Linked DNA regions of Homo sapiens. The gene in region 1 interacts genetically with each later gene. Each region holds a gene or a part of one and is shown on either strand. Other genes may lie near its edges.

Region 1 (3,810 bases):
AAAAAAAAGGCTGGGTGCGGTGGCTGACGCCTGTAATCCCAGCACTTTAGGAGGCCCAGGTGGGCAGATCATGAGGTCAAGAGATCAAGGCTGTCCTGGCCAATATGGTGAAACCCCGTCTCTACTGAAAAATTAAAAAAAATAAATAAATAATACAAAAATTAGCTGGGCCTGGTGGCATGTGCCTGTAGTCCCAGCTACTTGGGAGGCTGAGGCAGGATAATTGCTTGAACCCAGGAGGCAGAGGTTTCAGTGAGCCAAGATCGCGCCGCTGTACTCCGGCCTGGGCGACAGAGCAAGACTCCAGCTCAAAAAAAAAAAAAAAACAAAAAACGCTGGAGCTCAAGCAGTCATTTTGGATCATGAAGTAAACTTCAGAATGGAGACCATACAAGGTGGGGGAGAAACAGTGGTTTATAACTGGAGGGTAGCATGATCCACCCCTCTCTCCCATGTCCTTGGAAACCTATGGGGTTACTGTGATTGTAATAATGACTGAGAATGTTACTGAAGTTTATGGCGGGGAGGTGTGGATATCCTGCATCCTGCTAAGTACAGGACAGGACCACATCAGAAAGAATTAGCCTGCCCGGCCGGGTGCAGTGACTCATGCCTGTAATCCCAGCACTCTAGGAGGCTGAGGCGGGCGGATCACCTGAGGTCAGGACTTCAAGACCAGCCTAGCCAACATGGTGAAACCCTGTCTCCACTAAAAATATAAAAATTAGCCAGTGCATGCCTATAATCTCAGCTACTCGGGAGGCTGAGGCACAAGAATCACTTGAATCTGGGAGGAGGAGGGTGCAGTGAGCTGAGATTGTGCCATTGCACTCCAGCCTGGGCGGCAGAGTGAGACTCTGTCCCAAAAAAAAAAAAAAAAAAAAAAAAGGTAGCACAAATGAACGCCTGATGTACAGCCAGTTGGAAATTCTCCCAAAGGGCTGCTCTGCTCTAGGCTGAGCTGGAGACTTCCTGTCTGATCTGTCTCAGTCCCATACCCATTAATTTGCTGCTTGGACAATCTGGAGCCTCAGCTGGGAATTGACGGGAACAGTAAATGGGGAGACCCAGGTTTGGCTCCAACCAAGCAGAAGGTCCTGGGTTGAAAGTCTCCATGGCCACCATCAACTCTCACTGGTGACAGCAACAGACCCATCATTGGCTGTCTCTACCTAACAGTCAAAGGAGCTTTTATTTTTAAGTATTTTTTTTCAGATGGAGTCTTGCTCTGTCACCCAGGCTGGAGTGCAACGGCGCCATCTCAACCTCTGCCTCCTGCAGTCAAGCAATTCCCCTGCCTCAGCCTCCTGAGTAGCTAGGACTACAGGCACCCACCACCATGCCTGGCTAATTTTTGTATTTTTAGTAGAGATGGGGTTTCACCATGTTGGCCAGGCTAGTCCTGAATGAACTCCTGGCCTCAAGTGAACCACCCACCTCGGCCTCCCAAAGTGCCAGGATTACAGGCGTGAGCCACCGCGCCTGGCCGAATTTTTGTATTTTTAGTAGAGGTGGGATTTCACCATGTTGGCCAGGCTGGTCTCAAACTCCTGGTGTCAAGGGATTCACCCACCTGGGCCTCCCAAAGTGCTGGGATTACAGGCGTGAGCCACCGCACCCGGCCTCCAAAGGAGTTTTTATTTACTTCCTTTTATAAAAATTAATTTAAAAATTTCTTTTTCATATACATGGGGTCTCACTACATTGACCAGGCTGGTCTCAAATTCCTGGCCTCAAGTGATCCTCCCACCTTGGCCTCCCAAAGTACTGGGATTATAGGTGTGAGCTACCACTCTATTCAGACATGGCTCCTCATGGCTTCCTACTTCATTAGAATAAAACCTGAAGGCCACTCCCTCACCCACAGGGCCTTCCAGCTCCCTCTCCTACATAATTTCCTACCTCTCTCTTCCTTGCCTGCACAGTGGCAGCCACATGGGCCTCTTTGCTGTTTCTGGGACACACCATGCTCACCTCAGCACCTCCTTCTTCCTCCAAACTTTTCGTGACTGGTTCCTTTTTGCCACTTGGAACTCAGATGAAGTATCATTTCTCAGATTGCTCAGAGAAGCGTTCCCAAAAGTAGTCTTCCAGCCCTTAAAGTGCCTTCCTCTCAGCCTCCTCGCACTTTGTACTAACACTTTTTTCTGGTGTACTTGTCTTTAAAAATTATAATTTTCTTAAAAAACAGCTTTATAAAAAAGAGCTTCTTGTATGTTGACTGACTTACTATTCCTGAGGGCAGGGATTGCATGTATTTTTCTTCTCTGCTATATCCCTAGAACCCGGTGCAGTTAGATGAAGGAATGAATGAGTGAATTAATCATTTTCCTGTCTGACAGATGGGACAGTGCATGGGCTAGTGTCTGAGGGGGCTTTCAGTGCTAGCATCCATGTGCTGTCTCTATGCTTTTTTAAATTTTTTCTTTTTTTGGAGACAGAGTCTCGCTCTGTCACCCAGGCTGGAGTGCAGTGGCCAATCCCAGCCCACTGCAATCTCTGCCTCCCGGCCTCAAGTGATTCTCCTGCCTCAGTCTCCCGAGTAGCTGGGACAACAGGCATCTGCCACCACGCCCAGGTAATTTTAGTATTTTTAGTAGAGATGGGGTTTCACCATGTTGGTCAGGCTGGTCTCAAACTCCTGACCTCAAGTGATCCGCCCACCTCGGCCTCCCAAAGTGCTGGGATTACAGGTGTGCGCCCCCGCGCCCGGCCTTGTCTCTAGATCCTATGAGCTTTTTATTCTAATCCAGTGTGCCCCCTAGTTGCCATTTGTGCTAGCTGAACAGGTAACTGGCACTTGTCTGGTGGCCTGACCTTGCCAGCAGGTCCCTTTGTCAGACTGAGATCCTGGCTTCAGCAGGAGACCCTCCCTCCCACTCTGCCCTCACCCCTTCCTCCCTCCCTTACTCCCCAGAGGCCATCCCGGCCGCGCCTTTCAGCACCTCCAGACATCACTGCTTTTGGAGAAGAGGGAGAGACGGATAACCTCCGGCGCCATCCAGGCGTAGGTCCCCGCAGCGCTCATCTTGGTGGTCTTGTGCCACTCGCGGGCGAGGCCGAAGTCCGTGATCTTGAGCACCGTGTCTGCGAGGTTGTGGTTCTCGATGGCCTCCAGGATCAGGACTGTGGGGTGGGAAGAAAGGTGGGTCACCCCAGACCTGCCACGCCGCAGACCCAAGTGTTCTGGCCCGCTGCCTCAGCTAGAAACACGTCTTTCCTCTCACTGCCTCAGGCTGCCCCGCTCTGTGGCAGGTCCTTTCCTGGCCTGGAACATCCATGAGCCCCTCCGCCCAGGTCTAATCCCTGTCCCAGGCTCCCATGAGGGAGTAGGGAGCTCCTCCTGTGTCCTCTGCCCTCCTGATTCTGTCCTGGGCTTTGGGGAGCTCCATGAATGGTCAAGAACCAACAGCCAAGGCTGAAGCGGGTCACTTGAGCCCAGGAGTTCGAGACCAGCCTGTGCAACATGGCAAGACCTCATCTCTACAAAAACTTTTTAAAAATACCTGGGTGTGGTGGTGCATGCCTACAGTCCCAGCCACTTGGGAGGCTAAGTTGGGAGGATCACTTGAGGCTGGGAGGTTGAGGCTGCAGTGAGCCATGGTCTTGCCATTGCACTCCAGCCTGGGCAATAGAGTGAGACCTCGTCTCAAAAAAAAGAAACAACAGCCAAGGCCTTAGTCCTCCAGGCCTTGAGTTCCCAGCTACCCTGGAAGCAGGAAGTGCAAACCTGGGGCAGAAGGGAGGAACGTGGCTTCCCCCTCGTGTCTATCACCCCCGTGGCACACTGCAGTCAGGGTCCCAATTCTA
Region 2 (3,810 bases), about 38 Mb from region 1:
GCCTGGGGACAGTTCCCAGGACGGGAGCCTGAGGGCAGCGCACGGGACCAGCGTGAGGACACGGACTGGCCCGTGTCTGCCTCTGACTTGCTGGGTGTGCCTTTGAGTTCCTCTGAGGGTGGGTGCGCCGAGGGGGATCCAGCTGGGCCCTGGCCACGTGCAGGCCAGCCAGAGCCCTGGAGCCTGCAGGTGGGCTGGGACAGGGCTTGCGACCGCAGGGGTGGTGTGCGTTTGCGCTGGCGTCTGCACAGGTGTGTGCGTGCTGTGCCATCACGCTGGTCAGGCCTGTACGCCGTGGAGAGGGGCGCTGTGTGGGGCTCGCTGCCTGAGCCCTGGGTGGACCGTGGCTGCCCCATGAGTTGTCGGGGACCTCCGCTGCCCCTTGGACCTCGCCCGCGGCCCTGGGCAATGGGTGTGGTGACGTCCTGGGGCCCCCATGAGTCAGCTCGTCCTCGTGCCCGGGCACTGGCCTCTCCTTCCTGTGGGCGCACAGCCCCGGTTCCTCTGAAAGCTTCGTGGGCCGGGACCCGGGATGAGCTGGTTAAACCCTGGCCCTGTGAGCAGGAGGTGTGGCTTCGGGGGGCGGCCCCGCCCTGGGCTCAGACTTGATCCTGCACCGGAGGGAGCCATTCTGGAAGGCCGCTGCCCCGGGCCCTGTCCCTCCCCCTCTCATCCCCAGGGTGCTGGCCAGAGCCGGGCTCACAGCGTTTCTTAAAATTAACGATCCCGGCCGGGCGTGGTGGCTCACGCCTGTAATCCCAGCACTTTGGGAGGCCGAGGCGGGTGGATCACGAGGTCAGGAGATCGAGACCATCCTGGCTAACACAGTGAAACCCCGTCTCTACTAAAAAGACAAAAAATTAGCCGGGCGCGGTGGCAGGCGCCTGTACTCCCAGCTACTCGGGAGGCTGAGGGAGGAGAATGGCATGAACCCGGGAGGCGAAGCTTACAGTGAGCTGAGACCGCGCCATTGCACTCCATGTGGGCGACAGAGTGAGACTCCGTCTCAAAAAAAAAAAAAAAAAACGCAAAAAAAAAAAAGATCCCGTCACACTGACCCAGCTCACTGTTCTCTTACCAGCCTTATTTCGGTGTGGTCCTTAGAGCATGAGCCACTTTTTTTTGCTGGGAACATAATCCACGTTTGGTAAAATTCGGCAACGTGTGCACGCAAGTGGTTTTTGTACAGCTGACCCTTGAGCAGGGTGGGGTTTAGGGCAGCAGCCCCTCATGTAGCAAAATACCCTCGTATAGCTTTCGAGTCCTCCAGATGCCGCTGCCGACAGCCTGCTGGTGACCAGAGGCCTCGGGAGGACACGTGGTCCGCGCACACATACCTCGTGTGTTGTGTTAGGTGCTGCGTTCTCACAGTGAGGGAAGCTGGAGACCAGAACATGTGGAGAAAAGCAGAAGGAAGAGAAACCCTGTTTGCTCTTCACGCAGTGGAAGTAATGCTCATGGAAGCCTCTGTCCTCGTCGTGTTCACGTTGAGGGCTGAGGAAGGGAGGGTGGGTCTCGCTGTCTCGGGTGGCAGAGCGGGAAGGAGCCAGGAGAGGCTGGCGCCCTCAGGGCAACCTTTATTGAAAAAATCCACGTCAGAGTGGACCTGTCAGTTCAAACCTGCCGTGGTCAAGGCTCCTCTGTGAGTGCAGCCACCACCTGTAATTCCAGAGTGTTCTCATCACCTGCAAAGGGAGCCCTGGCCCCATCAGCAGCCAGCCTTCCACACCATCCTTTCCAGAACCTTCCCACCTTCCCAAATTGAGACGCTGTCTTCGTGAAACGTTCACTCCCGTGCCCTCTCCAGCCCCTGGCACCCCCATCCTACTTTCTGGCTCTGTGACTCTGAGGGCTCCAGGGACCTCCTAGGGGTGGAATCACACGGGATGAGGCCTGGTGTGTTTGGCGTCTCTCACTGAGTGTGACACCCTCGGTGCATCCGCGCCATGGCCCGCGTCCGAGTCTCGCTCCTGTTCGTGGCTGAGTCGTGTTCCGGCGTGTGGGTGGCCACGTGTTTATTTCTGTGATAGATGTTTGCATGGCATCCGCGTGTGGCTGCTGCGAGCACCCGTGTCCGGTTCCCGTGTGGCTGCGTGATTCTTCTGTCAGGTGGACTTCTAGCGGTGGAACCGCTGGTCACAGGGCCACTCCCGGTTGGACCATTTGAGGAGCCGCAGACGGCCATCCATACCTGCACTGTTTGGGTCCCCTGCCGGGTTTTGGGGACTGGATCTCTGCACAGCGACGACCACTCCCCTCTTCCGGTGACTTGGTTTCTCCTGTCCTTCGGCCCGATGCTTCTCTGGCCTGCAGGGCATCAGGGACCCTGCTGTCCTGATCCCCATGCCGTCTAGAAAGCCAGGGGTCCTGCATGTGCCCGGTGTCCCCACTGCCTTGTCAGGCACAGGGCCAGATCCTGCACCCTGTGACGAGCACGGCCAGTGGGACAGACAGATGGATGTGCTGCCCGTGACCTTCGCCACAGCGAGTTCAGAGGCCGGAGGCATCCAGTGTCCACAGAGTGACCGGTAGGCCCCAGCCCCACAGGATCATCGAGGTGGCCCTGGCCTTTCGAGGCCACAAAAATCAACGTTTATTTTTATTTATTTTATTTATTTATATATTTATTTATATATTTATTTATGAGACGGAGTCTCGCTCTGTCCCCCAGGCTGGAGTGTGGTGGCGTGAGCTCTGCTCACTGCAAGCTCTGCCTCCCGGGTTCACACCATTCTCCTGCCTCAGCCTCCCGAGTAGCTGGGACTACAGGCACCCGCCACCACACCCAGCTAATTGTTTGTATTTTTAGTAGAGACGGGGTTTCACTGTGTTTGCCAGGATGGTCTTGATCTCCAGACCTCGTGATCCGCCCTCCTCGGCCTCCCAAAGTGCTGGGATTACAGGCGTGAGCCACCGCGCCTGGCCATCAATGTTTATTTTTAAGTAGCAAAAGAGAACTCAGCAGTGTTGGAGAACTTGAACATTACAGCAACATCTGAAGAAGATGTTCTTTCACAAACCTCAGATTCCAGGAGATGAGCACCGTCCGCTTTCCAGAGAAAATTGTCTGAGGCCTCTGGGAGACAGGAGGGGGTGCACTTAGAAACAGCCAAGGCCTCCTTCCATGTTGGGACGGACGGGCCTTCCTGGGCTGGCCCGGCCTAAATCTGCTGCCGCCCACCGAACACCAAGGCACCTTCTCGTGCCCCAGAGGCCACCAGCACCCGTCCCCCTGCCTCCCTCCAGCCAGTGTCAGGTGGGGACCTGGCCGCTGGAAGGGAGGTGTCACCTGCTCTGGGGCATCCAGGAGGGAGGGGCTGCGGGAGTTTTGCTGGAGACCCTCCAGGTGGGGGTTATGGGGTATCATGGCGGAGCGTGTTGGGAAGTTTTCGGTGAGCTGGGCGTTTATTCGCCTTGGTGCCCCCCTAGATCCCTGGGTGATCCCCGTGCCCAGTTTTCAGGGGAGACCATGGGGGTCAGAGAGCTGGCCAGGCGGGTGGTCTGTGTCTGTCCCCTGCTGTTGAAATGAGGGGAGGTGAGAGGAGACGCCGTGTGCCTGGGGAGGCAACACTTTCTACCGTTTGCTGGTTTATAAAAATCAAAGATGGCCAGGCACGGTGGCTCACGCCTGTAATCCCAGCACTTTGGGAGGCCGAGACGGGCAGATCACGAGGTCAGGAGATTGAGACCATCCTGGCTCTACTAAAATACCCTGTCTCTACTAAAAAAAATACAAAAAATTAGCCGGGCGTGGTGGCGGGCGCCTGTAGTCCCAGCTACTCGGGAGGCTGAGGCAGGAGAATGGCGTGA

The links.
Region 2: changes in MAP3K10 (region 1) and CSNK1G2 together harm fitness more than expected from each alone (negative genetic interaction), as found in Homo sapiens cells (one large-scale study listed by BioGRID).

What each region holds. Positions count from the first base shown.
Region 1 is NC_000019.10:40,197,691-40,201,500, reverse strand, and holds part of MAP3K10 (mitogen-activated protein kinase kinase kinase 10), read right to left. Parts: intron 3,127-3,810; coding exon 2,946-3,126; intron 1-2,945. UniProt on the Homo sapiens protein: Activates the JUN N-terminal pathway.
Region 2 is NC_000019.10:1,947,514-1,951,323, forward strand, and holds part of CSNK1G2 (casein kinase I), read left to right. Parts: intron 1-3,810. UniProt on the Homo sapiens protein: Serine/threonine-protein kinase. Casein kinases are operationally defined by their preferential utilization of acidic proteins such as caseins as substrates. It can phosphorylate a large number of proteins. Participates in Wnt signaling.